Linked DNA regions of Homo sapiens: region 2 is linked to region 1. Evidence: fine-mapped expression QTL. Tissue or cell type: thyroid. Region 1 holds a variant in brackets; the other region holds the start of a gene. All regions are shown on one strand. Distances are from middle to middle.

Region 1 (2,674 bases):
CGCGGCTGCGCACCTGCCTCACGGCCTGCTGCAGCTTCTCCAGGCTGAGCTCCTGGGCCTCCCGCAGCAGCGTGCTCTCGTCCATCTTCAGCATGGACACACGATATTGGCAGAGCTCCACGACCACCACGTCAGGCTGCACCTCCCGGATGGTCTGCAACAGCCACAGGTCACACCTCGAGAACACAGCCGCTCCCTGCCCCTCAGCACAGCTGACGCCAGCACCAGGGGCCCCATCCCAGGAGCAGCCAGCCTTGGCGTCACCCCAGGGCTAGCTAACCCCGCTGCTGCAGTGACAGCTCAATTCTCTAAGCGACGAGAGAGGAAGCTGTGAGGCTTGTTCACTTGTTAAGTGGGAAAACGCACAAGGCCGTCACGGCTCCCAGGCAGGAAGCCCACCTTGCCACTCCCAGGGACCACAGTGTTGAAGCAGGAGGCCTGCGGTGCGCACACACGGGCACACGGGCCCTGCCGGGAGGTCCCTGAGTGCAGGACACAGGAGCTTACACCAACCCGTGTCCGGGATGTGGCGGGTGGCGGCGCTCACCTTCACAACGTCCCTCTTGCTGTCGTCGCTGAAGTGGGCTGTCCCCACCACGTACACCCTGCTCCCGTCCTCAGCCACCAACTGGGTCACAGTGCGCGGCAGGTTGGGCCGCTGACGCCGCCGCTTCAGCTTCATCTCCAGGAGCAGGTTGAAGGCGTCCACGTCGGCTGCAACAGCAGCACAGGCCGTTGTGGTGCCGGGCCCACCCCAAGGACGCCGCCGGGCCCGCTGGCAGCCTGGGCTCTAGAACCCTCCTGGGTTCTGAGAACTGAACAGGTGCAGAGCACAAGACTCCTGACGAGCGTCACACTCCACAGGCTTTGCCTGCCCAGTGATGGGAACACCGGCTACCACCTCTGTGAGCTGCACGGCTTCGAGAAGCCAGGGCCTCAGGAGTCCTGTGCCCCATACACCCCATGAGGGCGACCTTGGGGGTTGCTGTGGATGAGGTTCGGTGTGGGGGACAGTGGGGGCAGGTGCCGCAGGGGGCTCAGCTAGGGGAGGGGCTCTGAGGCGAAATGGGCCCCCCCACCCCACTCAGGAGGGACAGGCTGAGGCCACAGCAAGGAGGGACTCCCGTGCCGCTCACACTGCTTGTGCTCACGAGCCCCCCATGCCCAGGGGCCTGCCTGTGCTGCTTGCAGCCCCTCCAAGAGGCTCCACTGCCAGGCAGGGCCCAGGAGCAGCTGCTGTTGGGTGGCACCAGGCCTAGCAGCACCTACCTCAGGTCTCGGCCAGGGCCCCTGCTCACCACAAGCTCCAAGCCCCTGGCAGTGGTTGGCTGCCTCCCCCTCCTCCCTGACTCAACAGCCCAACACCGGGGAACGTGCCAGGACCCTGAGGGACACGTACACAGGTTCTGGGGGTCTCCAGAAAGCACCCTGGGCACCGGCTCTGAAGCCTCTGA[C/T]GGCACAACAGGTTCCACGTTGGCCTGCAGGTGGAAAGGAGAGTTCAAGTCAGGGTCCATGCACCCCAGAAAGCCAGGGCTCCGTGGCAACTCCACGGACCACGTACCCTGGAAAGGGACCCGTGGCCGCTGTGTGGACCACACACCCTGAAAAACGAGGGCCCGTGACCGCTCCACGGACCACGTACCCGGGAAAGGGACCCGTGGCCGCTCTGTGTACCACACACCCTGAAAAGCAGGGCCTCCGTAGAGCCTAGGCCCCACACTGTCAGTACCCCTCCTGCTTGGCCATCACTGGCACGGCTGCCATCAAGCTGGGCAGACAGGGCCACCAGGCCACCTCAGCCCAGCGCCCCTCTCCCTCGGAGGTGCCTCCTGCCTGACCCTGGAGAACCCTGTGAAGATCACCTTTGCAGAACAACAGCCAGGGACCGACCCCGAGAGCCCACAAAGCGGGGAAGCCCCCCGCCCCTGTCTCTGTGCAGCCAGCCCAGCCTCCACCTCACCTCGTGCGGTGGCTGCTGCTCCTCCCCGTCCATGGCTGGGCGGCGGCTTCCTGCACCTGTGGGGAGCCTGAGGAGAGGCATGAGAGGCGGGGTTTCCACCTGGAGCCCCAGACCTGGCTCAGGACTCACTGCGTAGTGCCCTGTCAGTCTAGAACCATCTGTTGGGTGGGCCTGGGGGCTCCTTCCCCCATATCCCCAAATGCCTCCTGCCCATCAAAGGCTGCTGAGGTCCAGGGTCGGTTCAGGTCAGGCCCGGGTGGGGAAAGGCCAGCAGGTCCCCAGACACCCCAGCATAAACCAAACGCAGACGGGCCCAGGGCGGGTTGCTGGTGCACAGGCCTCACTCAGAACAGGGCCAGAGCTGCCCAACCCTCACTGCGGCACGGCGGGCACACATAGGAAGGCAGCCCTGGGGTCCACACATGATCTCAGGACACAGCAACGCAGCTGCTGACACATGGCAAGGACCCCAGGGCCTTTGTACAAAAGCCACTTCCCCTTTCAGTAACTACAGCCTGGGCAACAACACCGGCACAGAGTCAGTACAGACGGAGGAATCCACAAAGCACACAAATCAACGTGTTTGGACCTAAGACCTTCTCTCCCACTTTAAGAGACAAACATGGTGTGGAAGGAACCACGGTAGAAACCCGGACAGGCTGGGGCAGCCACACGAGGGGGCTGCCCCGAGGCATCACAGCTCCCCACAGACTC
Region 2 (2,674 bases), 51 kb before region 1:
TTGGGAGGCCAGAGCCAGCAGGTGTCCGTAGATGAGGAGCTGGGCTCTGCTGTCCCCACAGATGACCGGTGGTTTCCTGAGCTGCATCTTGGGCTTGGTGCTGCCCCTGGCCTATGGCTTCCAGCCTGACCTGGTGCTGGTGGCGCTGGGGCCTGGCCATGGCCTGCAGGGCCCCCACGCTGCACTCCTGGCTGCAATGCTTCGGGGGCTGGCAGGGGGCCGAGTCCTGGCCCTCCTGGAGGAGGTAAGCTGGGCAGGGTGGAGGTGCTGCGGGGTGGGACGAGGGAAAGGACCAGTGACTGCTTCCGTCTTCGCCCCTGGTCCAGAACTCCACACCCCAGCTAGCAGGGATCCTGGCCCGGGTGCTGAATGGAGAGGCACCTCCTAGCCTAGGCCCTTCCTCTGTGGCCTCCCCAGAGGACGTCCAGGCCCTGATGTACCTGAGAGGGCAGCTGGAGCCTCAGTGGAAGATGTTGCAGGTGAGGCTGACTGCGGAGGCATGGCCCTGCCCTGGGGCCTGGCTCTGCCGCACAGATCGGTGGGGAGGGCAGGGCAGGGGAGTGCCCTGAACCAGCTCCAGCGCCGGAGGCCAACTGCGCGCCTCTTCTCGGCTCCTCCTGTAGTGCCATCCTCACCTGGTGGCTTGAAATCGGCCAAGGTGGGAGCATTTACACCGCAGAAATGACACCGCACGCCAGCGCCCCGCGGCCGCGATCCGGACCCCAAGCCCACGGCTCCCTCGACTCTGGGGCACGGAACCCCGCCCACTCCCAATCCCCGCGCCCCGCCCTCTCCCACCCGTGCTTCCCCCGCTCCACCCCTCACCTCACCTCGCCCCCGCCCCACCCATCGCGCCCCGGCCCGTCCCATCGAGGCCCATGCAACCCACGCTCGGTCCCGTTCCGGCCCCTGCGCCCCGCTGCGCTTCGCTCCCCGCCCTTGCGCCGTTAGTAAACATCGCTCAAACGAAACGCTGGCTCTGCCTCCTTTACTGAGCACGCTCGGCCTCGGTCTCTCACCCGCGGTGCCGGACTCAGGCCGGAAGTATGCCGCGGCCCAGGCCTCACCAACTTCACGCGCTGCCGGCGTTCCCGTGACGTATTTCCGGCGCGCCCGCCCTAGTGCTCTTCACACTGGCGCGGCTGTGACGCGACGGAGGCGGCGAGAGCGGCAGCCGTGGGCACTTTCCACGGGTGAGGCCTGGAGAACGGGTGGACGTGCAGGCCAGAACCCGGGACCCACCCGGCTGAGCCCCCAGACTCTCCGCTGCCCACGACCCTCGGAGTGGCACCCTCTCCTGGCCGTCTCCTCTCGTGGGTCCCGAAGAACGGGTGCAAAGCCGAGTTCGTCCGCTGTACTGCGCGGGCGCGCGTTTCGTTCTTCGGTTTTGCCACGGTTCTGTGACTCCCTAAAGGTTGAGGGCTACTGAATTAGAAGAAACGCCGAGCTGGCTTCTGGTGGGCTGCCGGGCGCCGGGCAGCGTGCTTGGACTGGGGAGGGCAGGGCGTGTTTACTCTGAGTAGAGCAACCGCAAGACCTCCTTTAAAAAATACCAGTTCTGAGCTTCGGCATTGGAGAGGCCGCCTGTCATTCAGCCTCTTCGGACCCTCTCTCACTCCCTGTCTTCCGGAGCGTGAGTGAAGCCCGGGTGAGGTGTTTTCCCACACGCCGGGGGCCCGGAGCTGAGAAGGGGCATGGCCAGCATCACGCAGCTGTTCGACGACCTGTGTGAGGCCCTCCTGCCGGCTGCCAAGACTCACCTGGGCCAGCGCAGTGTGAACCGGAAGAGGGCAAAGCGGAGCCTCAAGAAGGTGGCCTACAATGCTCTTTTCACAAATCTTTTTCAAGATGAGACTCAACAGCTGCAGCCTGACATGTCAAAACTACCAGCGAGAAACAAGATCCTCATGTTGTCCTTTGACTTGAGAGTGGGTGGCCTGGGCCCCAAGGCCGACCGTTTGGAGGAGCTTGTGGAGGAGCTGGAAGCAGCCCCTTGCTGTCCGCTTTTGGAGGTGGGGTCTGTTTTGGACCTCCTGGTTCAGCTGGCAGGGAGTGGTCCCCCTCAAGTTCTGCCGAGAAAACGAGACTACTTCCTTAACAACAAGCATGTGGGGAGAAACGTTCCGTACAGCGGCTATGATTGCGACGACCTGAGTGTGTTTGAGATGGACGTTCAGTCTCTGATCTCCAGAGAAGAGTGTTTGTGTCACAGCATGATCCAGGAAACACTTCAGGTTATGGAGGCTGCTCCAGGCACTGGCCTGCCCACCGTCGGGCTCTTCTCATTTGGTGACCCTTGTGGTGACAGGTTCGAGAGAGACACCCGGGTCTCGCTCTTCGGGGCCCTTGTGCACAGCCGCACTTATGACATGGACGTCCGACTGGGCCTGCCCCCCGTGCCAGACAATGCGGACCTCTCTGGGCTGGCTATTAAGGTAGAATGTTTAGTTTTTCCTCTTTCATCTCTCTCGGGGTTTGGAAAATGCTTCCTGTGACCTTTCTTCTTCTTCTTCTTCTTCTTTTTTTTTTTTTTTTTGAGACAGTGTCTCACTCTGTCACCCAGGCTGGAGTGCAGTGGCGCGATCTTGGCTCACCTTAACCTCCACTTTCTGGGCTCAAGCAATTCTCGTACCTCAGCCTCCCGAGTAGCTGAAATTACAGGCACCTGCCACCA

Evidence for each region. PIP is the estimated chance that this variant, and not a neighbour inherited with it, causes the effect.
Region 2: it holds the start of TUBGCP6, and the variant in region 1 is fine-mapped to the expression of TUBGCP6 in thyroid (GTEx, PIP 0.97).

Annotation. Positions count from the first base shown.
Region 1 is chr22:50,192,380-50,195,053 of GRCh38, reverse strand. TRABD (TraB domain containing) reads right to left here. Exons shown (of 10, transcript NM_001320485.2): 2 at 1,961-2,027; 3 at 1,400-1,478; 4 at 548-714; 5 at 14-154. The coding sequence starts at 1,993. Among named protein-coding and RNA genes, the nearest start is that of TRABD-AS1, 7.1 kb to the left of the region's middle. RefSeq lists enhancers at 2,315-2,404, 2,485-2,534. The variant C/T (reference allele first, on the strand shown) is at 1,455.
Region 2 is chr22:50,243,480-50,246,153 of GRCh38, reverse strand. TUBGCP6 (tubulin gamma complex component 6) reads left to right here and starts at 1,131. Exons shown (of 25, transcript NM_020461.4): 1 at 1,131-2,435. The coding sequence starts at 1,695. It overlaps HDAC10 (histone deacetylase 10), which reads left to right. Exons shown (of 20, transcript NM_032019.6): 18 at 62-244; 19 at 327-479; 20 at 624-971. The coding sequence ends at 647. RefSeq lists a silencer at 759-828 and enhancers at 1,299-1,348, 1,759-2,038, 1,612-2,542.